2 separate regions of the Homo sapiens genome follow, and region 1 is linked to region 2. The links come from fine-mapping of genetic effects on gene expression. A gene starts in region 2. The other region holds a variant in brackets. All regions are shown on one strand. Distances are from middle to middle.

What was found.
Region 1: its variant is fine-mapped to the expression of MYO16-AS1 in esophagus muscle (GTEx, PIP above 0.99). The same link has a PIP of 0.9 or more in testis.

What each region holds. Positions count from the first base shown.
Region 1 is chr13:109,256,594-109,273,615 of GRCh38, forward strand. It overlaps LINC03061 (long intergenic non-protein coding RNA 3061), which reads left to right and starts at 8,894. Exons shown (of 2, transcript NR_185883.1): 1 at 8,894-9,074; 2 at 11,018-14,482. LOC130494219 (a long non-coding RNA gene) reads left to right here and starts at 15,610. Exons shown (of 2, transcript NR_185888.1): 1 at 15,610-15,826. RefSeq lists enhancers at 10,678-11,636, 14,154-14,882. The variant T/C (reference allele first, on the strand shown) is at 8,914.
Region 2 is chr13:109,163,251-109,171,250 of GRCh38, forward strand. MYO16-AS1 (MYO16 antisense RNA 1) reads right to left here and starts at 4,053. Exons shown (of 3, transcript NR_047700.1): 1 at 3,769-4,053; 2 at 3,386-3,460; 3 at 655-841. It overlaps MYO16 (myosin XVI), which reads left to right. Exons shown (of 35, transcript NM_001198950.3): 33 at 1,651-1,809.

The sequences.
Region 1 (17,022 bases), 98 kb after region 2:
AATATCGCTATTCAATTACTTTAAAATAAGCTTTCCTTAATACTTTTAAATTGTAAATGAGAAAACAGATATGTACAGAAAAGACCATTAATAAAAGTTTAGGTTTTTCAAGGTGTTGTTTGTTTGTTAATTCATGTGTTTGCTTTTGTTTCAGTTGTTGTTGTGTGTTTGGGGGTGAGGCTGGGGATATTTGTTTCCTGAGGACCTCTGCATTTTCTGACTTTTATTTGAATGTGCTAAGGCAAACTGAGAAAATTCAAAATTGTGTCCAACCGTTTGACTTCTCAAGTCACATACCAAAACAAAAACTATGGGATTACATCAAAGGGCATAGTAGGGATTCCTGGGTTAAGGAGAAAAAAGTGTGTAACATTCCTAACTAGAGTGATGGAGTATGAACTATATAAGGAAAGCTATCATCACCATTGACAAATATTTGTTATGTTAGGCACTAGCCTCCCTGTAAAGGAAGACAATACCCATGAATTCAGAATGTAAGCCACCCACAGCCCTATACTGAAGTTATCCTGGACTTTCCTGCCTGTGTCCACACAGATAGGAATCCTAGTCATGATGAAACTGAACATCCACACTGGCAGCTAGCTCCATGATAGGACATGTGAGCACAAATAGTTCAAATTGCTCAGAGGGAGAAAGTCAAAAGCACATTGTGCAATCTGACTCTTTGGAATGTCAATGTGAGGCATGAATCACCTGACAGAATTTGCCTCGGTCCATTTAAAGACATTATTCAAAGAAACTCATCTACACATCACTGCCCAACAAGGAGACGTTTCTATTTCAAAATTAAATAAGAACCTCAGACAATTTTTTCACAGCAGTTATCATGATTATTGAATATGTGATAATCCACAGTGTATTCAATCCTTGTGGATTACAAAGGACACATTGTAGAAAACTGCAGATTTGGTGACAGCATTGGCACTAAGAGTCAGAAATCCCAGATTCTAGACCATGCCAAACCACTTCCCAGACAGGTGACCTTGGACAAGTACCTTCATCTTGCTAAACTTTTTTTTTCTTTTTTGTTAAAAATAGTAGTAAGAGTTCCTGAATTTTTCATCACACACAGGTTGCACAGGAATCAAAAGAAAGTCTATAACAATATTTGATAAAGTGTAATGCATATGGACACAATAACCATAATAATTACTAAAATATTTTTATTATACAAGCAAAAACTTATAAAAAGAAAATGTTTAATTCAAGTCATGGGAATAAATGAGACTCTTCAGAGAACTTGTAATATAAGTCAGAAAGAAGTAAAAGAAAAGAAAAGCCATGAGGAACACTAATACTTAGAAATAAGGCAGACGGCCGGGCGCAGTGGGTCACACCTGTAACCCCAGCACTTTGGGAGGCCGAGGTGGGTGGATCATGAGGTTCAGGAGATCGAGACCAACCTGGCTAACACAGTGAAACCCCATCTCTACTAAAAATACAAAAAATTAGCCAGGCGTGGTGGCAGGCACCTGTAGTCCTGGCTACTCAGGAAGCTGAGGCAGGAGAATGGTGTGAACCCAGGAGGTGGAGCTTGCAGTGAGCCGAGATCACACCACCGCACTCCAGCCTGGGTGACAGAATGAGACTTCATCTCAAAAAAAGAAAAAAAGAAATAAGGCAGACACAAGAGCCAATAAAGAAGTGAGAAGGTGGGTTTGTAGAAATGTCAGGGAACTAGGGATGTTCTGTGTTACAGATGCCAAGAGAGGGGAAGAGTAATCATCAGCAAAGTACCTCCCAAATGGATCAAATAGGATGATCACAACTAAATTAAAATCATTAGCTTTGGTAACTAGAAAGTCACTGCTCTGTTTCTATCAACTGATTTTTTTTCTTGGTAGGGTCACATTTGCTTGCTTCCCCACATGTCTAGTAATTTTAATTGGATATTTGACATCACCACTGTTGTTCAATGTCTGGATTCCTGTCTTCCTTTAAAATACTCTGTACTTTGTTCTGGAAGGAGATTAATCTCTTTGAGGATGTTTGACCTTTACAGTCTTTCTTAGGATGTTTTTAAGCTTTGTTAGAGAAGGTTTAGAATAGCTTTTGCTCTGGGGCTAGGTGAGCCCTGCACTTAAGATGTGGCCTTTGTGGAGCCTCTACTGAATGCCCTGGTCTTTCCATTCAGGCTAGCTGGAGCCCAAATGTCTCCCAGCTCTACATGAGCTCCAGTGGTTTGTGTTTGTAGTTCCATGACAGTTATCTTTTCTTGATAGTTGTTCTGTACCCTACACAAGTTCAGGTTACTATTCAGACAAAGACTCAGGGAAAACTCTGAGTAGATTCTGAAGCTCCTTCTCTGCTTGGCCCTTCCTCTCTAGTACCCTGCCCCAAAAATTTCAACTGTGCATTTCCTGTGCAAGTACCTTTATTCTCAGTCTTTCTGAACTTTGATCTCTATCACCTCATCTCAGTGAGACTCCAAGTTCTGCTTAGGCTGCCTCTTCAGGGGCCTTGGTCCAGAAGCACTATCCAGGCAGAAAGCCAAGGCATCCAGGGCCCACCACATTAGTTTTTTCCTGCCATGGATTATATTCCTATGCTGCCTTTTGTTTAATGTCTAAAAACCATTTCTTTTTCAGTTTCTCTAGCTCTTTATGTCCGGAGGACTAGTTCAGTACCAGTTACTACATTTTAGCCAGAACCAGAAGCCCACTGGAGATCTTAGGAAAAGAATTTTGAGTGGATTTAGGCATAAATGAAAGAAAGTAATGAGCCAGCACATATAAGCAACTCTTCAACAAAGGGACAGAGGTAGACTGAACAGTGACTTGTGCAGAGATCTTCATCCAAATTATTGCTATTTTGTTATTTATGACTTAATCTCAATAGTATTTCTTAATGTTTGACTCTATGTGGCTAATAACTGTGTCTACTTTGGTTAGTCTTGTATCTTCAGTTAACACAATTCCCATAACACTGGCCCATAACTGGGACTTAAAAATACTTAAAAAAATACTTGCTGAATAAATAAATAAATAACAAATAAATGAATGAATGACTGGAAGAACCAGTCTCCATTTTCCAAATGCTTAAAAGTGTAATGTTATGTGAATATAACACTTGTATGTCATATTACCTGGAAATTTTATTTCTTTATCAAGCCTCCTTTAAAAACAATTTACTTTGTTTTCTAGTGGAATGTGTCCTACTTGAATCTAGAACATGACCCTTTTGCGAAATTGGTTGTCATTTTGTGAACTTTGAGGAATGCCAACCAGGAAGGAACAGTTTGCATTATGAGAAATTTGAGTAGGTACACCAATCAGATGACAGCCATACTTCAGAAACACATCTTAAAATAAATGAATAGCTCTACCTGGCCAAACATAACCTCAACAAATGACTGTTCCAGGCATCTTAACAACATACATGAGAAAAAATGAATTCAGACTTAGCATACAAAATAACTAAAATGTTTTTACCTGCAAGACATATTTTGTAAGTGAAGGCAAGTAGCTTTTGCCTTTACTGGCTGATACCAGATTACTAATTAATCACGTGAGATATTGCTAGATCAGACTTCTAACGAGTGACTTTCAGAGTCTGACGATGAAAAAGTTAAAATCTTTAGTGATGCTTTCTGCACGTATTGTCTTCTTCTCAAGAGACAATTGAGGATTTATAGGTTCTGTTAGAATGAGAAGTTTTCTCAATTCAACATATTGTGATACTTATTCTCCCTAATTTTGTGATGCCATATTCCTCCTCTACACTAGCAAAATAAGAGGAAACTAAAGCAAAATAGCTGGAGAAAAACAGACAATCTCATACATTGATAGAAATACAAAATGACCTTATCTTATAAAAAGGGAATTTGGAAATGTGTAACAGGATGACTTAAGCATTTATCTTTGACCCAGCAATCTCATTTCCAGAGATCTATCCTAAAAGTACATGGCAAAAATATGAAAAATAGAGGTGTGCAACTATATTCCTTGCAGCATTATGACTAATAGAAAGGGTGCAAGAACAATGTTTTCCAATATTTCAATAAACTATGCTATGTCCTCACAACAGAGTACTATAGAGCTGTACAAATAAAAGATGAATACTTCTAGAAGCTTCAATGTGTAGAATATTTAACTAAGAAGAGTATGTGTGTATATATACATATATATCTACAGAAAACATGTTTTATTTTAATAACTTAAAAAATTTGTACCTACAGAGGGTTAAATACATACAAGAGAAAGGAATAGAAGCAAGTCTTCCCTGAGTATACATTGTTTTGTACATTTGACAAATAACTCATGTAAATGCTTAACATTATATTAAATAAAATTAAAATTACAAAGGCCATTCTTAAAATCAAAAGCAAATAAAAAATAATGAACCTGTTTATCAGGTTAGTAGCATATTCACAAAAAGACAAAAATTTCAAGTAACTTTAAAGAATATTGATTTACTATACCCCCTATTGGGTTAGATACTAAAGACCTGAAGAACAATCTTCAACTCTTTTCAATAATCACATTATTTGTGACAGAAGTGATATAACTATTCTGAGAATATGTCATTATTTTCTGTATGTAATGAGTAATTATCGTGAGATAAATCAAATGAACTATTATCATTGAGGATTGGCGTTTTCACCATGAAAGGAATGAGATACGGATGTAAGGTTGATGAGATGAATAATAACCTGTAGTCTTAAATTGTATTTAAAATTAGTAATCAATATGAATTCACATTGTATATCATCTTTATGAATACATTGTGTGTGGGCATGTGCGTGTGTGTTTCTTAGCTTTGTCCTCTAGAAAAGTCTAGAAACAGTGACTAACTCGGTAGCAATTAGCACCTCTAGCACAAAGATCATGGTCTCTAAATATGATTTCCCACTGCAAGGAACCAGAATTCCTTGGTGAAATAATTGCTTTCAGCTTGAGAAAGAAAATGTTAAAGATGAGTCTGAAATGTCTGTTCTTCCCAGACAGTAAGAAGCTAACAAAGTCTATTGAAATCGTGAGCAAATAATTCAACAGCCACATTCAAGAGTTTTTCATTAGCCAATGGAGGGCAAATTTGGCCACAAATAAGATTAACAAATGAAATAAATTACATTAAGCATGTAAATTCATGTGTTTATAATAATACTGTAATAGTCTGTTCTCATGCTCCTAATAAAGACATACCCAAGATGAGGTTATTTATAAAGAAGAGAGGTTTAATGGACTCACAGTTGCACATGGCTGAGAAGGCCTCACAATCATGGCAGAAGGCAAAGGAGAAGCAAAGGCACGTCTTACCTGGTGGCAGGCAAGAGGGCATGTGCAGGGGAACTCCCCTTTATAAAACCATCAGATGTCATGAGACTTACTATCACTAGAAGAGCATGGGAAAAACTTGCCCCCAAGATTCAATTAACTCCCACAAGGTCACTCCCACAATGTGTGGGGATTATTATAATTCAAGATAAGATTTGGTTGGTGACACAGAGCCAAACCATATCAAATACTTAAGTCAAATTTCAGTGATCATCTTCAGAGAGTGAAAGGAAAACAATTTATTGTTTTGAAAACTAGTGGATAAGAGGATATAACCAAGAACTTACATTGCTTTTCCTATAATAATTCTACCTCAAAGTAAACATATAATATACAATGGAAAGGCATTGTTTGTAGATACACTACAGACAATAAATTTAAAAGAAATGATCACATTAAGACATCACCATTTTGTAACTCTCTTTTTTTTATGTATTTAGTCAGATTAGTCATCTACCTTTACAAAGAAAAGAGATGGCTAGACAATGTACACCTCCTAATAACAAATATAATTCTGCCTACAAGTATTTTTGAATACAGAGTAAAATACAGTAAATAAAACCCAAATCCTACTAAAAGTTTAGGTTTACTAGTTTATAAGAAATTCAGGTTTCAAAGGAATTACACAACACAATCTGGACTGTAAAAATTTCTTTAGGACAAACAACCTGTTTCTTCGACCAATAAAATGCAAGGAAAAAGCCAACAAGTTCTATATCTTAAAAGAGGTTTAGGCCAGGCACGGTGGCTCATGCCTGTAATCACAGCACTTTGGGAGGCAGAGGCAGGTGGATCACAAGTTCAGGAGATCGAGACCATCCTGGCTAACATGGTGAAAACTCATCTCTACTAAAAATACAAAAAATTAGCCAGGTGTGGTGGCAGGCACCTGTAGTCCCAGCTACTTGGGAGGCTGAGGCAGGAGAATGGTGTGAACCCGGGAGGTGGAGCTTGCAGTGAGCCAAGATCGCGCCACTGCACTCCAGCCTGGGCAACAGAGCGAGACTCCATCTCAAAAAAAAAAAAAAAAAAGAGGTTTAAAAGATAAATCAATCAACTGCAAGGTATAGATCTCTTTGGGACTTCTGAGTCAGGCAAATTGTAAAAGAAGAAAAGAGAATCAGGAAAATTAGAACACTTAGTAGATATGTAATAGTATTAAGGGGCTGGGCTTAGTGGTTCATGCCTGTAATCGCAGCATTTTGGGAGGCCAAGGCAGGCGGATCACTTGAGGTCAGGAGTTCAAAACCAGCCTGAGCAACATAGTGAAACCCCATTTCTACCAAAAATACAAAAATTAGCCAACCGTGTGGTGCACACCTATAATCCTATCTACTTGGGAGGCTGAGACAGGAGAATCACTTGAACCTGGGAAGCAGAGGTTGCAGTGAGCCAAGAGTGCCCCCACTGCACTCTAACTTGGGCAACAAAGCAAGACTTCAACTTTAAAAAAAAATAGTATTAAGTAATAATTTTTTTTTTTTTTTTGAGACAGAGTCTTGCACTGTCGCCCAGACTGTCATGCAGTGGCAAGATCTCAGCTCACTGCAACCTCTGCCTTCCTGGTCCAAGCGATTCTCTTGCCTCAGCCTCCCTAGTAACGGGAATTACAGGCACCCACCACCACACCTGGCTAATTTTTTGTATTTTTAGTAGAGTGGGGTATCATTATGTTGGCCAGGCTGGTCTCAAATGCCTGACCTCATGATCCACCTGCCTTGGCCTCCCAAAGTGCTGGGATTACAGGCATGAGCCACTGTGCCCTGCCTAAGGAATAATTTTTAATTTTTAAGTATGATAATCATATGGAAATTAACCTTTTGAAAGAGGTCTAAACTTTCAGAGATGTATATTGAAATATTTATGGAGGAAATGATATGATGTCTGGGATTTGCTTCAAAATATTTGGTGAGGGACAGGGTGCAAGATAGGATTATAGAGGACGCAAGACTTGAACTTTCACCCTATTTGGTTGTACTTTCTGAAGTTCTATGGACTAGATAGTCACACAGGGGTTAAGCTGTGTGTTGTGGCTCATGCCTGTAATCCCAGATAAAGGAACAGAAAGGCCTATATGGAAACATTTGAACACCTAGTCAGGCTAATAATTTAGTTCCTCAGAATAAATATATTTGTGAAATGTATATTAAGAGAAGCTAAGCACTGAACAGGGAAGAACAGAATGGAGGAATTAAAAGACCACCGAGTCAGTGCTTTGATCACCTTATTGTCCTAAACCCTTGATATCCCCACACTCATATGCCCACTCAGCTGAATAAAGCCCATGAAGTTACCAGAATATTTAACTATTATATATTATTTCCCAAGCGTTCCCCTTGAAGGAATCACTCCCAGAACCAACCAAGGGGCTTATCAAGATATAATTCCCAATCATGTACACTAAGTCATCTTTCAAAGATAACTTGTGGAGAATACAATTTCTTCATCTAATCCAGGGGGCTTTGGCATTTCTCACCAACTCCCCTCACTGGCAACTGCCTCCCTTCACATGGCTTCAGAGAATTTTCCTGCTAACAGAGATTGCTCAGGAAATAGCTATAAACACCTATTATCTCCCTTCCCAGAGCTTTCTTTAACAATAAGACCCTTCCCTTGGCCATCATTTCCATCATTATTTTGACTTCTCCCTTGTCCCTTAAGTCCAATTAGCTGATTGGAAACCTTCCCACATAATCTGCCATTCTTGCTTCCTTTCCATTCCCAATGCCACTGGATTTGGCTGGACCCCATAGTGAGCGAGGAAGTAAAAAGAGAATAGCTAGGCAGATAGCTAGGTCAAAATTCCTCAGTAGAACTTCCTTTCTCACAAAAAGCAGCCCAAGAAAACACGTGTCTCCTAACAAAGAGCAGCCTGGAAGATTGTGCTGCAAACATAGATAAGGAAGCTGGAAGCTTGCAGCTGGGAGCTGCCGCACTAGAAAGGGGTACCTGGGGCCAGTCATGTGCACCATGAGGGCTCCGCCTCCCACTTTTTTTTTTCTTTTTCTTTTTTTTGCACCTGCACAGTAGGAAAGCAACATGGAGTAGCTCAGGCAAAGGACCCGCCTCCATAATAAAAGGCTGGGATGGGGGCTGCCAGAGATTCGCACTCTATGCTGATGGTACACCTGGTCTTAACTGTTTTTTCACACCCTATGTAGGTAAAATACTGCCTCCCCACTAGGTCACTTATAAAAACTGTCAGGCCTCTGAGCCCAAGCCAAGCCATCGCATCCCCTGTGACTTGCACGTATACGCCCAGATGGCCTGAAGTAACTGAAGAATCACAAAAGAACTGAAAAGGCCCTGCCCCGCCTTAACTGATGACATTCCACCATGGTGATTTGTTCTTGCCCCACCTTAACTGAGTGATTAACCCTGTGAATTTCCTTCTCCTGGCTCAGCAGCTCCCCCACTGAGCACCTTGTGACCCCCGCCCCTGCCCACCAGAGAACAACCCCCTTTGACTGTAATTTTCCATTACCTTCCCAAATCCTATAAAACGGCCCCACCCCATCTCCCTTCGCTGACTCTCTTTTCGGACTCAGCCCGCCTGCCCCCAGGTGAAATAAACAGCCATGTTGCTCACACAAAGCCTGTTTGGTGTCTCTTCACA[T/C]GGACTCGAGTGAACTTTGATGCCGTGGCTCGGATCGGGGGACCTCCCTTAGGAGATCAATCCCCCGTCCTCCTGCTCTTTGCTCCATGAGAAAGATCCACCTACGACCTTAGGTCCTCAGACCAACCAGCCCAAGAAACATCTCACCAATTTTAAATCCAGTAAGCCGCCTCTTTTTACTCTCTTCTCCAACCTCCCTCACTATCCCTCAACCTCTTTCTCCTTTCAATCTTGGCGCCACACTTCAATCTCTCCCTTCTCTTAGTTTCAATTCCTTTCATTTTCTGGTAGAGACAAAGGAGACACGTTTTATCTGTGGACCCAAAACTCCAGCGCTGGTCACGGACTGGGAAGGCAGCCTTCCCTTGCTGTTTAATCATTGCAGGGACACCTCTCTGATTATTCACCCACGTTTCAAGGGTGTCAGACCATGCAGGGATGCCTGCCTTGGTCCTTCACCCTTAGCGGCAAGTCCCGCTTTTCTGGGGAAGGGGAAAGTACCCCAACCCCTTCTCTCTGTGTCTCTACCCGTTCTCTGCTTTTCTGGGGAAGGGGCAAGTACCCCAACCCCTTCTCTCTGTGTCTCTACCCCTTCCCTGCTTTTCTGGGGAAGGGGCAAGTACCCCAACCCCTTCTCTTCTTGTCTCTACCCCTTCTCTGATTTTCTGGGGCAGGGGCAAGAACCCCTCAACCCCTTCTCCTTCACCCTTAGTGGCAAGTCCCACTTTTCTGGGGGAGGGGAAAGTACCCCTCAACCCCTTCTCCTTCACCCTTAGTGGCAAGTCCCGCTTTTCTAGGGGGCAAGAACCCCCAATCCCTTATTTCCACACCCCGACCTCTTATTTCTGTGACCCAATCCCTTATTTCCACACCCCAACCTCTTATCTCTGTGCCCCAATCCCTTATTTCCATGCCCCAACCCCCCTTCCCACTTTTCTAGGGGGCAAGAACCCCCAATCCCTTATTTCCACACCCTGACCTCTTATCTCTGTGCCCCAATCCCTTATTTCTGTGCCCCAACCCTTTCTCTGCTTTTCTGGAGGGCAAGAAACCCCCACCCCTTCTCCGTGTCTCTACTCTTTTCTCTGGGCTTGCCTCCTTCACTATGGGCAAGCTTCCACCTTCCATTCCTCCTTCTTCTCCCTTAGCCTGTATTCTTAAGAACTTAAAACCTCTTCAACTCTCACCTGACCTAAAATCTAAGTGTCTCATTTTCTTCTGCAATGCCTCTTGACCCCAATACAAACTCTACAGTAGTTCCAAATAGCCGGAAAACGGCACTTTCAATTTTTCCATCCTACAAGATCTAAATAATTCTTGTCATAAAATGGGCAAATGGTCTGAGGTGCCTGACATCCAGGCATTCTTTTACACATCAGTCCCTTCCTAGTCTCTGTGCCCAGTGCAACTCATTCTGAATCTTCCTTCTTTCCCTCCCGCCTGTCCCCTCAGTCCCAACCCCAAGCGTCACTGAGTCTTTCTAATCTTCCTTTTCTACAGACCCATCTGACCTCTCCCCTCCTTGCCAGGCCAAGCTAGGTCCCAATTCTTCCTCAGCCTCCGCTCCTCCACCCTGTAATCTTTTTATCGCCTCCCCTCCTCACACCTGGTCTGGCTTACAGTTTCGTTCTGTGACTAGCCCTCCCCCACCTGCCCAGCAATTTACTCTTAAAAAGGTGGCTGGAGCCAAAGGCATAGTCAAGGTTAATGCTCCTTTTTCTTTATCCCAAATCAGAAGCGTTTAGGCTCTTTTTCATCAAATATAAAAACCCAGCCCAGTTCATGTCTCGTTCGGCAGCAACCCTGAGATGCTTTACAGCCCTAGACCCTAAAAGGTCAAAAGGCCATCTTATTCTCAATACACATTTTATTACCCAATCTGCTCCCGACATTAAATAAAACTCCAAAAATTAGAATCTGGCCCTCAAACCCCACAACAGGACTTAATTAACCTCACCTTCAAGGTGTACAATAATAAAAAAAAGGAAGTTGCAATTCCTTGCCTCCACTGTGAGACAAACCCCAGCCACATCTCCAGCACACAACAACTTCCAAATGCCTGAACCGCAGTGGCCAGACATTCCTCCAGAACCTCCTCCCCCAGGAGCTTGCTGCAAGTGCCAGAAATCTGACCACCAGGGCAAGGAATGCCTGCAGCCCAGGGATTCCTCCTAAGCCATGTCCCATCTGTGCGGGACCCCACTGGAAATCGGACTGTTCAACTCACCTGGCAGCCACTCCCAGCGCCCCTGGAACTCTGGCCCAAGGCTCTCTGACTGACTCCTTCTTGGCTTAGTGGCTGAAGACTGACGCTGCCTGATCGCCTCAGAAGCCCTGTAGACCACCATGGACACCGAGCTTTAGGTAACTCTCACAGTGGAGGGTAAGTCTGTCCCCTTCTTAATCAATATGGAGGCTACCCACTCCACATTACCTTCTTTTCAAGGGCCTGTTTCCCTTGCCTCCATAACTGTTGTGGGTATTGACAGCCAGGCTTCTAAACCTCTTAAAACTCCCCAACTCTGGTGCCAACTTGAACAACACTCTTTTATGCACTCTTTTTTAGTTATCTCCACCTGCCCAGTTCCCTTATCAGGCCGAGATATTTTAACCAAATTATCTGCTTCCCTGACTATTCCTGGACTACAGCTGCATCTCATTGCTGCCCTTCTTCCCAATCCAAAGCCTCCTTTGCGTCCTCCTCTTGTATTCCCCCACCTTAACCCACAAGTATAAGATACCTCTACTCCCTCCTTGGCGACCGATCATGCACCCCTTACCATCTCATTAAAACCTAATCACGCTTACCCGACTCAATGCCAATATCCCATCCCACAGCATGCTTTGAAAGGATTAAAGCCTGTTATCACTCACCTGCTACAGCATGGCCTTTTAAAGCCTATAAACTCTCCTTACAATTCCCCCGTTTTACCTGTCCTAAAACCAGACAAGGCTTACAACTTAGTTCAGAATCTGTGCCTTATCAACCAAATTGTTTTGCCTATCCACCCCGTGGTGCCAAACCCATATACTCTCCTATCCTCAATACCTCCCTCTACTACCCATTATTCTGTTCTGGATCTCAAACATGCTTTCTTTACTATTCCTTTGCACTCTTCATCTCAGCCTCTCTTTGCCTTCACTTAGACTGACCCTGACACCCATTAGGCTCAGCAGCTTACCTGGGCTGTGCTGCCGCAAGGTTCCAGGGACAGCCCTCATTACTTCAGCCAAGCTCTTTCTCATGATCTACTTTCTTTCCACCCCTCCACTTCTCACCTTATTCAATATATTGATGACCTTCTTCTTTGTAGCCCCTCCTTTGAATCTTCTCAACAAGACATACTTCTGCTCCTTCAGCATTTATTCTCCAAAGGATATCGGGTATCCCCCTCCAAAGCTCAAATTTCTTCTCCATCCGTTACCTACCTCGGCATAATTCTTCACAAAAACACAGGTGCTCTCCCTGCTGATGGTGTCTGATTAATCTCCCAAACCTCAATCCCTTACAAAACAACAACTCCTTTCCTTCCTAGGCATGGTTAGTGCGGTCAGAATTCTTACACAAGAGCCAGGACCCCACCCTGTAGCCTTTCTGTCCAAACAACTTGACCTTACTGTTTTAGCCTAGCCCTCATGTCTGCATGCAGCAGCTGCCGCTGCTTTAATAATTTTAGAGGCCCTAAAAATCACAAACTATGTTCAACTCACTCTCTACATTTCTCATAACTTCCAAAATCTATTTTCTTCCTCATACCTGACGCATATACTTTCTGCTCCCCGGCTCCTTCAGCTGTACTCATTCTTTGTTAAGTCCCACAATTACCATTGTTCCTGGCCCAGACTTCAATCTGGCCTCCCACATTATTCCTGATACCACACCTGATCCCCATGACTGCATCTCTCTGATCCACCTGACATTCACCCCATTTCCCCATATTACAAGCCACTAGCCCATCTCTTAGAACCTCTCATTTCCTTTCCATTGTAGAAATCTATCCTCAAGGAAATAACTTCTCAGTGTTCCATCTGCTATTCTATCTGCTATTCTGCTACTCCTCAAGGATCATTCAGGCCCCTCCCTTCCCTACACATCAAGCTCGAGGATTTGCCCCCGCCCAGGACTGGCAAATTAGCTTTACTCCACATGCCCCGAGTCACAAAAACTAAAATACCTCTTAGTCTAAGTAGACATTTTCACTAGATAGGTAGAGGCCTTTCCTACAGGGTCTGAGAAGGCCACCGCAGTCATTTCTTCCCTTCTGTCAGACATAATTCCTCAGTTTAGCCTTCCCACCTCTATACAGTCTGATAACAGACCAGGCTTTATTAGTCAAATTAGCCAAGCAGTTTTTCAGTTTATATCCCTTATAGTCCTCTGTCTTCAAGAAAAGTAGAACGGACTAAAGGTCTTTTAAAAACACACCTCACCAAGCTCAGCCACCAACTTAAAAAGAACTGGACAATACTTTTACCACTTTCCCTTCTCAGAAGTCAGACCTGTCCTCAGAATGCTACAAGGTACAGTCCATTTAAGCTCCTTTTTATTAGGCCCCAGTCTCATCCCAGACACCAGACCAACTTAGACTGTGCCCCCAAAAAAACTTGTCATCCCTACTATTTTCCGTCTAGTCATACTCCTATTCTCCGTTCTCAACTACTCATACATGCCCTGCTCTTGTTTACACTGCCAGTTTACACTGTTTCTCCAAGCCATCATGGCTGATATCTCCTCATGCTATCCCCAAACTGCCACTCTTAACTCTTGAAGTAAATAAATAATCTTCGCTGGAAGGACTATGCTGAACCTCCTTAGGCATTCTCTAATTAGATGTCCTAGATCCTCCCAATTCTTAGTCCTTTTATACCTGTTTTTCTCCTTCTCTTATTCCATTTAGTTTTTCAGTTCATACAAAACCGTATCCAGGCCATCACCAATCTTTCTGTATGACAAATGTTTCTTCTAACAACCCCCTCAATGTCACCCCTTACCACAAGACCTCCCTTCAGCTTAATCTCTCCCACTCTAGGTTCCCACGCCGCCCCTAATCCCGCTTGAAGCAGCCCTGAGAAACATCGCCCATTCTCTCTCCATACCACCCCCCAAAAATTTTCACCGCCCCAACACTTCAACACAATTTTGTTTTATTTTTCTTATTAATATAAGAAGGCAGGAATGTCAGGCCTCTGAGCCCAAGCCAAGCCATCGCATCCCCTGTGACTTGCACGTATACGCCCAGATGGCCTGAAGTAACTGAAGAATCACAAAAGAACTGAAAAGGCCCTGCCCCGCCTTAACTGATGACATTCCACCATGGTGATTTGTTCTTGCCCCACCTTAACTGAGTGATTAACCCTGTGAATTTCCTTCTCCTGGCTCAGAAGCTCCCCCACTGAGCACCTTGTGACCCCCGCCCCTGCCCACCAGAGAACAACCCCCTTTGACTGTAATTTTCCATTACCTTCCCAAATCCTATAAAACGGCCCCACCCCTATCTCCCTTCGCTGACTCTCTTTTCGGACTCAGCCCGCCTGCCCCCAGGTGAAATAAACAGCCATGTTGCTCACACAAAGCCTGTTTGGTGTCTCTTCACACGGACGCGCATGAAAAAAACCCTTTCATTTTACTGTGGGACGGCAACCCTTTCTGGGACCCCTCTCTGCAGCAGAGAACTGTTCTCTTTCTTTCACCTGTTAAACTTCTGCTTCTGCTCTGACCTCGTCCTTGGTGTGTCTGCATCGTCGATTTCCTCAGCTGTGAGACCAACGACTTGGGCACCCACCCAGGCAACAAGGCCTTTTCAGTAAGGGAAGTGGTAAAATGTTTTCAATCCCTGTTGCCAAAAATCGGCCTAAGGCTTCCCAAAAAAAGTAACCCAAAGCAGACATGGCAAATATTTGCTACATTTGATAATAAGCCAATAAATTATCTGCTAATAAGTGACTGAAATATTTAGCACACATCTGCCTTATTCTGATGACTGATCACATTTCTAGCTCCCCTGTGGACTAAAACAATATGCTTTCCTTCTCTACACAAGCAATGCTTTCTGCAGAGACACAAACTTTACATCTGAATACAAATGCAGCACGTTTTAATTCTGCCTCTCATTCTCCAGCAAAATCATGGGGAAGAAGGAAAACATCCTTAGTCAAAAGGGGTACAGGGACTTAGAACCTCACCATGCTGCAGTCACACAGGCAATAGAGAAAGATGGCGGTGGTTCCCTGGGGCAGTTCCCCTCTCAAGCAAGGAGACAGGGGCAGCACTCCTACCATCTCCCCAGGGATATAGGAGTTAAGAAGGAATTGCTTAGGCAGATAGCAAGGGCATGGGAGTCCTGGGTAAGGCTTTTCTTTTTAATGAAAAGCAGCCCCAAGTCATTTTCTAACAAAGAGCAGCCTGCAAGCTGGGAGCTTGCATAGGTGAATGCCAGCAGGAACTAAGGACTAGACATTTTCAAACTGGTGGCTCCATCTTCCCTTCCCTGCCAGCCAAGTGTATTGTAAGGAGCAGAGAAGATGGCTCTGATCAACTGGAAAGCCTATTTGCATAATTAGATTAGGGTGGGGCAACCAGCCTTCCCCCGCACACTATGTAGACGTCATACCTGATGGAACCAGTCTGTGAGCCCTATGTAAATCAGACACCGCCTTCTCCAACTTATTATATCTGTTTTGGTCCACTGCCTCCCCACTTTTCAGATGTCTCTCTCTCTCTCTCTCTCTAAGAGCTGCTCTCCTCTCTCCTTTCTTCTATCTATTAAATTTTCCACTCCCTAACCCACCCACATGTGATTGTGTCCTGAATTCTTGGTGTGTGACGATGAACCCCAGGGTGTATACCCCAGACAGCACAGCCACTTCACCAGCAGGGACAGCAGCTGTCACATGAACTGGAGATGAACTGGAGGTGAGTCTGATGTCTCGGAATTTTGAGGAAAGTGGGTAGAAAGTTGCCAAGCAAGCTGAAGAGACAAGCAAAAGGGATCATATTCCAGAAGAATTCTTAGCAAGACCACAGTCAGAACTTCAATCAAGGTGATTGATTGGTCTGAAAGGGGGAATAGAATGTAAATAAAATACAACCATGAGAAACCACATGTATGTTGTTGAACCTTATCTAGACACTAACTGTGAAAAAGCCAGCTTGGATTATTGATGAACGACATTCAGAAAACCACAATTTTGCCATGCTTATTTAGAGAACAGAGACAGTGGTATTATCAGCCTATAGCTCAATTGTAAAATTGGGATGACTAGATGTCCCGAGACTATTCTGTTCCTCGGCCCTCTCGACACTCACCTAAGAAGCTTCCAAATTTACCACTTCTCAGTCATTGTAAGGATGCTGCATGTCATAAGGATGATTATGGAAGATTATGGGCATGTTCTACATAGAGAACAAGAAAAGTCACAATATTTTCTTTTATAAATTTATATTTTGGAATTTATATTAGTTCCCCTAACTCTAAATAACCATGGGAATATTGACAAATTTGATTTTCCAGAACTTTAAAGCTGAGGCTAGACACTAACCACAGTGACTTTATCTATGTAGTAGCACACTCTACCAGCTGGGATGTCTGGATAACAAGTTCCCCAGATTGCAGCCTCCCTCCAGCACCAAGTAGGATTACGAGTCTGTTTGGTTTCATTTTAGCTATGTAGATTTGTCAAATTTTGTCACCTCTGGACTTCAGTTTTCTCATATGTAAAATGATGCATTGGCCTGAATGTTTTCGGAGAACCTTCAATCTCTGTGAGTCTCTTCACTGAAAAAATTGTTGACTTTCTTTTTTTTATTGTTCTGTTTTTCTTTTCTATGTCAAAAAAGCACTATGGTAAAAGTCTTTCAGTAAAACTTGAACCTTGGGGCTTGTTCCTGAGTTTGACATGTTAAACAAATGAAAGAACTGTTTTCAACTGATTAGTCATATCCTTCAATTCCTACGGGAATATGGGTTCGTTGTGCATGAGAAAGTCAGCCAACTTTGGCATGAAGATGTCTTTCAGGTAGGTAGGCCACCTGTGATGAAGTGAATCATTGAAGAAAGTCTATTTTCTTGTGGCATAAATACAAGCCTGAAGATTACACATAAGCTGTCA
Region 2 (8,000 bases):
TGGGGTTGATGCGGGAGAGGGCTTGAGTGCACCAAAGCAAGAAAACAGGAGTCAATATGGAGAATTTGGATAAACATGCATTGCTTGTAGTGCTATTTGAGGGTATGTCTCGAGAGGCAAGAGGAGATAATGTCAAGGTAGGAGTTAAGAGGGACCAAGTCAAGACCAGCCTTGAGAGATAAGCTCTGGGGAGATGGAACCTTCCCTTCCTTCCTTCCTTCCTTCCCTCCATCCCTCCCCACTCCCTCCTTCCCTCCCTCCCTCCCACCTCCCTCCTTCCCTCCCTCCCTTTCTTTCCTTTTTTGCTTTCTTTCATTGTTTTCCTGTCTTCCTCCCTCCTTCCCTCCCTGTCTCCTTCCTACCTTCTTTCTGTAGATTGCAACCAACAGCAGTTTATCCAAAACTTTTCAGCATGGAAATGACATAATCCAATTTGTCTTTTAATGAAAAATAAAGACTGAATAATAATCAGAACATACAGGTTAAAGTTCCATTCTATCTCTTTCCAACTGCATGACTCTGAGTAACCCTAATTCCTTCTTCAGCAAAATAAGGATAACATCTCTGCCTATGGAGGTACCGGTGATTGGGATTGGGGTGGTAATACACCGTTCTGCCATATTTAAAGTATAATAAAGCAAATGATGTGTGTTGTCCCATTCAAATAATTTATTAGTCTAAATCTTTAGAAAAGCCTAACTTTAAGACAGTCAGAATCAACTGTGTCCCAACAGAAAAGAACCAAAGTCTCACGCATATCCTTGATGCTGAATCAAAAGTCTCCAATAGGTTGCAGCTTTTTTGAGGTTCCTTAGGAAGCAAGAGCCAATCCCAGGTGCACCTGTGAAGTCAGAGAAAGGGAACTTGGCAGAGGTGGTGATGGGGGGATGTCTGGCCCCTTGATGGCAGTTGTGCCTGATTTGCAAAGTCTGATTTTGTGCCTAAGGGTAATGCAGTGACCATGGGGAAACCTACCTCCATTGGACATTTTTCCAAATAGAAGCATTTGCTGTGTTTCACTTTATTAATATTACATCACTTTAAAAAGTCTTCATCAGGCCCTTCAGTGGAATTTGGACAGTGGCTTTCGTGTTCGTACCTCTCAAAACACTTAACATAGGACAAGCATTACATATTTAAGTAATTATCTTAGTGTGCAGAATGCGGAAGTCGAGTATTGAAGTTCAGTATTCCAACATGGACACTAAAAGTGTTTATAGTGATGTTGAAAATATCACTATAGTGTTTCTTATCACTCAAGTGTTTCTTATTTTTTCCAAAGCTGTAAGATTGCCTTAATTTATTTAAATGTAATCATTCAGAAAACTCCTGAAACATGAACTCATTGCTTTCTCATGACAGGCAATACTATAATGACAAGTTATTTGATCTATGACATCAAAAATTCTTTATAAATATGTTTGAATGCAACAAATTATTGTTACCACTTGACATTTTCCTTTTTGTTTGACATTGTTGTGGCAAAATTTGGTGAATATTATATAGGCTACAAATTTTATTAAAGATTATTATTATTTTAAATGTCATGAATGTTTGATTTGATGTTTTATTATTTTCTCCAAATGTTTTATTCAGTATATTCAGTACATGTTATCAGAAAATAATTATGTTTTCTAAAATTTATTTTAGGTTTTGAAACTAACATGAACATAAGTAGCCGAGATGACCCTAGTACGTCAGAAATTACTTCCGAGACTCAAGACAGAAATGCAAATAACCATGGAATTCAGTTATCTAATTCACTATCTAGTGCTATAACTGCTGAAAATGGAAATTCCATCTCAAATGGTAAGCACTTTTTAAACTCAGAAGTAAATGTACAAAAGTTTTAGGCTGTATCAACTTTCTGGGAGGAATGGATTTAAAATATGAAAATGAAGTAGGGTTAAGAACTGGAAAATAGAATATAAACCATGAAACTCCCCTGCAAGTATTATTGTCAGCATATGATTGCTTCAGTTAAAGAATTGGAATTCTATTCACTCCTTGTTGACTTTTCCGAAATTTTATGGAGTGTTAATCTAAAAGAACTGGTCCAAAATTAGTCTTATACTGAGCAGAAGAAGGCAATAGATTCTCTACCAATATTTTTAATTAAAAAATTATTCTGGAAACTAAGAAATGTGAAGGAAAATAATATTAAAGAAATGATAAGTGCCAGACTGGCTTCAGGTATTTTAAGTACATCAATGAGTGCCACATTTAGAAAGTGGCTTGATTGCAGGTACAAAAGCTGAGGATCACGCAAGTATTTTCTCTCACAAATAAAAGAAGACAAAGGCGTCTGGGAATAACTGATGGGAAGACTCAGACCAACTATTCCTGAGGGCCTCCCGCAGGGCTGGGAAAAGCATGTTTGTTTAGTCTAATTAGAGGCGTGGGAGAACCATCATGATGCTGAAATGCTGGGAAGCAGTTGAAGACCTGGGAGTGGGGTGCAAGGTGAGCCGAAGCAAGGAAGCCCACACTTGAAGCTTGGCTCATGGGGACATAAGGGTACCCACATTGTTCAGAGAAGGCAGCTAAGAAGTCAAGTTGTGCTTCTGACTGCCTTCTCAAATTACAGGGCAAGAAACTGAGTCGTGGCCCCACCAAGGCCTTGGGGTGGGGCCTTCAAGTGTTCTTCCCAAGAGTCAGAGTGAACCAGAACCAAGAACCATGTTGAGTTGCCCAGATGTAACCAGGCCTACAGGTACCTGGGAGAAACACGTGTACATTTTCCCCAAAGGGCAGTAATAGCATCCTAGGCTTCAAAACATTCATAGAAACCATTTTTCAAATGCAAAGTCCAACACAGTTAGAAATAACCAGGCATAGGAGCACACAAAATAAGATAAAAAATTAAAAGCAGAGACGGCAGCCAATTGCAATATGTCCACAGGGATTCAAAAGGTTGGAATTCAAAGACACATGCCTTAAAATAAGTATGTTTACTCAGCCCCCCACGAAATAAAACAACGAGAATTTCAGCAGAAATAGGAAACTATAAGGAAATCGTCAAATGGAAATTCTGAAATTGGAAAATGCAGTAATAAAATTGAGTACAACAGAGGATAAAGTTAAATTTAATTAGATATAGTTGTTTAAAAACAAAACAAATAAAAAATAACTGGAGAAGTGGAAGATAACTCAGAAAATCCCCAGAATGAAACAGATTGAAGCAAAAGGGAAGAATGGAAACTCCAGACAATGGTTTAGAGATATAAAGGGCAATGAGGAGGATGATTGAAGTCTTAGGGAAAGAAGAGGGAGCGCATGAGCAGAAGAAAGACTTGGTGAGAAATGTTAGAGCATCTCCCAATGCTGACGAAAGAGCACCAGGAAACAGATTTAAGTTGGCAGATTTTTATAACATTCAACATACATTCTTCACGGGATCCAGCAATCTGACTCCTCAGTATCTTCCCAAGAGAAATGACAGCAGTGTCCACACAAACACCTGTATGCAAATGCATATGGTGACATTATTCATAATCACATAAAACTGGAAATAAATTCAGTGTCTTTCAACTGATGACTGGCTTGTATTAGTGATCCATCACTGTGCAAAATATTACTCCCAAAACTTGGAGGCTTATATAAGAAATGGTTATTATTTCATAGTTTCTGTGGGCCAGGAAGCTGTGTGTGGCTTAGCAGGGTGCCTTTGGTTTAAGGTCCCCCATGAGACAGCAATCAAGCTGTCAGCCAAGACCACAGTCATCTTGAGACTTGAGTGAAGGCTGATCCATTTTCAAGGTCACTCACGTGGCTATTGGCAGGCCACAGAAGGTTCACATCCAAGTCAACTCACATGGGCAGCCTCCCAGCACAGCAGCTCTCCCCACATCCCTGAGCAAGCAATCCAAGAGAGAGCACCCCAGATGGAGGCTGCAGTCTTCACATAACCCAGTCTTGAAAATGACACCCCAGCACTCTGTCACGTTTGATTGAGTCACTAAATCCAGGCCACACTCAATGGGTGGGGAGTCCGTGAGTGCCTGGAGGTGGGCTCACCAGCATCTCACAGGCTGAACTAGCACATGGATGAAGCCTGCAATAAATAAGAGTGATCAACTATAATGAGCATCATAAAAAAAAGGGATGGCTAAAGCATTGTGTTGAGGTTAAAAAAAAAAAATCAAAAGACTAAGTGTGATCCTGCTTATGTAACATTTGGGGAAAAGCAAAGCTGGAGACAGAAAACAGCTGAGTGGTTGCTGGAGGCTGGGCGTAATGGCAGGAGATGAAGTTCAGAAGGACATGTGGTGTTATAGACAACCTGGAGTGCTCATGTCTGCAGATGCACAGATGTGTATGTCTAAAAAAGGTGAATCTCACTGTCTCTAAATTACACCATAATCAATCCAACGTTTGTAAAAATGAAACAGAAACCTTTGCAAAGCCTAAGTAGGATACATAAAACTTTCCTAGGTGTATCATAGTAAAACACCTATAAAATAAAGACCGAGAATTAATTTTAAAAGCAGTTAGAGGTAAAAATATGTACTATCTTCGAAAAGTAGCAACTGAAGTCCAAAGACAATGAAATAACATAGTTAACATGCTCAAATAAAATAACTGCCCCCCAAAAATTCCTGTAATAATGAAAGGGAGTTAAGGATATTTTTAGGAAAAAAAATAAAAATGAAAGGAATTAAACACTGACAGACTCAGAATGCTTAGAGATAAAGGAAAGAATAAAGAATAACTAAAAAGGCAGTAAAATTTGGAGGGGTAAAATAATATTTAATATTATACACTGATAAACCTACCTTGCCAGTTGTAACCTCAAAGGTAACCCCTGAAAGAATATTAGTGGGGTAGATAATATCCAAACTAGTAAAGAGAGAAAAATAAAATCATAAAAAGTCAACTCAAAAGATGCAAAAAGGGGATAAAATAGGAAAAATAGGGCAAGGAGAAAGTTCTGAGACAGTAGATATGAAAACACATGTGAAAATAAACTTTATTTAATTATAATAAACTTTAAAAGGCTTATTTAATGTAAACTTATATGAAAAATGATTAGCAGAATATTTTAAAAACTAAGTTTTCTGAAAACAGTAAAACATAAGGATTCTGAAAGAGTAAATGTAAAGGGATAGAAAAGAAAAAGATACAATGTGCAAATATTAAAAAGCAGCAAAAACAGTGCTCATATATTTGAACGTCAAAAATTACATCTCTAGGCCAGGCGCGGTGGCTCACGCCTGCAATCCCAGCACTTTGGGAGGCCGAGGCAGGCAGATCACCTGAGGTCAGGAGTTCGAGACCAGCCTGGCCAACATGGTGAAACCCCCATCTCTACTAAAAATACAAAAATCAGCTGGGCTTGGTGGTATATGCCTTTAATCCCGGCGACTCGGAAAGCTGAGGTAGGAGAATTGCTTGAACCCAGGAGGCGGAGTTTGCAGTGAGCCCTGATCGCGCCACTGCACTCCAGCCTGGGTGACAGAGCCAGACTTTGTCTAAAAAAATAAGATAAAATAAAATCTCTAAGTAATCAATGTATTCAAGAAGAAATCACAAAATAAATTAAAAAGCAAAATATTTTAACTAATGACAATGCAAATATGACAACAGAACTTTTAGGACATGTCTAATGTCTTTTGTGTATGAGTGGAAGGGGCTCGGGTACAGTGTCGGTATGGTCAATATGTGGCTGTATGGCATCGTGGCCATGGCTGGGCTTTTAGTGTCCACATCAACTGAATAGTATATATTGTCCTGATTAAGTCGTTTCATATGCTTCATTCCATCCCATCCTCCCACCTTGCCACCCTTCTGAGTCTCCAGTGTCTATTATTCCACACTCTGTGCCCAAGTGTACACGTTATTTAGCTCCCACTTATAAGTGAGAACATGTAGCATTTTTCTTTCTGTGTCTTAGTTATTTCACCTAAGATAATGGCCTCCAGTTCCATCCATGTTACTGCAAAAGATCTCTTAAGAAATGGAAATGTATGGCTTCAAACCTTTGCATCACAAGAGAACAAATACGATGAGTGTTAAAAGGGTCTAGAAATTAGAAACAGAACAAAAACTAAATACTATGAAAATGGAAGGAAAGATATGATAGTGATAATAAGAACATAAGTTATTGAAATATAAAACAAATAAAATAATGTGAAGGGATAGAAAGGAAGGAAAGAGAAAGTTGTTTATCTTTTAAAAAATTATCTTTGAAAACAATAAGATTGAAAATTTTCTTGCAAGGGGATAGAGAAATAGAGAAAATTGGCACAAATAACAGATTTTAGATTGAAAAGGGGACATCAATACAGATCTGGCTGAAATTAAAAATAGTAAGAGAATATTACAAACAGTTTTACACCAAGATAAATTTACAAATTTACATAAACAAATACATTCTTAAAAAAAAAAGAACTAACGAAAATGGACAAAAGAAGTAGGAAAGCTAAATAACACCGTAAATGTTAAATTAATGGAATTTGTAATTGAATGCCTTCCTACAAGGAAAATTCCAGAATCAGATGGTTTCTCCACTAAATGTTTCCAAAATTCTAAGGATTAAATAACTCCAATGTCACGTACACGCTTTCAGAGAATAGGAAGGAAGGAGAAAGAAAATAATATTACTCCAGCTTGCATAATTAGCCACTTAATTTATGACAAAATTGGCATGTGAGAGCACTGGGGAAGAATAATTGATTGCTATCCATGTGGAGCAAACAGTGAAACTCGACTCTGCCTAATGCTATACACACAACAATTCCTGATAGATTATAGATCTGTATGTCAAATGTCAAATCATAAAATGGATAGAAGAAACAATAGGAGAGTATCTTTCTTACTTCATAAAAGGAAAGAAGGGCTTGTTAAGCAAGACACAAAAGTTTTAACCATAAAGAAAAAAGAAAAAAAAAAACATAAATAGGGAGAAAATATTTTTAACACATTTACCCAACAAAGGCTAATATTCAACGTTTATTTAAATTAAAAACAAAAGACAGCTGAAAAGAAAATTGGACAGAATATGTGAATACCACTTAGAAAAACAATTTTAATGGAGTCCAACCTCATTAGTAACTAGAGAAATGTAACTGAAGACTCCAGGGCAATACTACTACACACACTCTAGAATTACAGACCCGCCTGAAAAGGAAGAGGTGCTCGGAGAACGGACTGCCACAAAGTGAGGATGGCAATTTCATTTGGAGGGGAAGGCCAGTAGCGATTTGGAGAGATGACTACAGGAGCTTCCGCAGAGCTGCCAGTGTTCTATTTCTTTATTTTATTTGTGTGGTTGTTACAATTCTGCAATTTAAAAAAAAAAGGAGGAAGAAAGAGATGGAGAAAGGGAACTTCTCTTCACCAAAATATTTAAGTTTTCTGTGTTTTGAGGCAAAAGGCAAAAACTACAGCTTCGGAAATGATCCTAAAAAACTTAATAATAATAATAATAAAAACGGCAAGTCATACTCTAAATATCAAAACATAACCAAAAACCAAGGAAACAAGCAGAAACCCTCTAGACCAAAATGGAGATGTTTGTGAAATAGGATCCATGAAATTAATAATATAAATTCTTTAGGAGTATCAGGGTTCTAAACTTCAGCATGTAACACATAGTGTGTACGGCCAAAGCCTGCAACACAGATTTCTGTGTTCTCCCTTAACACACTTACAATTTTTAAAATAAAGTTGGTTCTATGCTGTCATTAAGTAAAAACCACTTGAAAATCTCAAGAGTTATGCGTGCAAAAGGAAAATTATTTCAATTGGAAATTCAATCTTTCAAAGCAACTTGACACATTTATGCTGATCTACTCTTGTGAGCGCCATGAATTTCTGGGGGCCTGGAACTTTCCCCATGATTTTTAAAACATCCAGCACAATACCCTTTATACTTAGGCCCTGAGTAAGCATTTGCTGATTGAAACAATGTTGTTTGTTACGGAGGAACCAGTAAATCCCATACAGAGGGCAGAGTCAGAAAAACTGCCTCGTCAGTATTATAGAAATTGAACAAACAT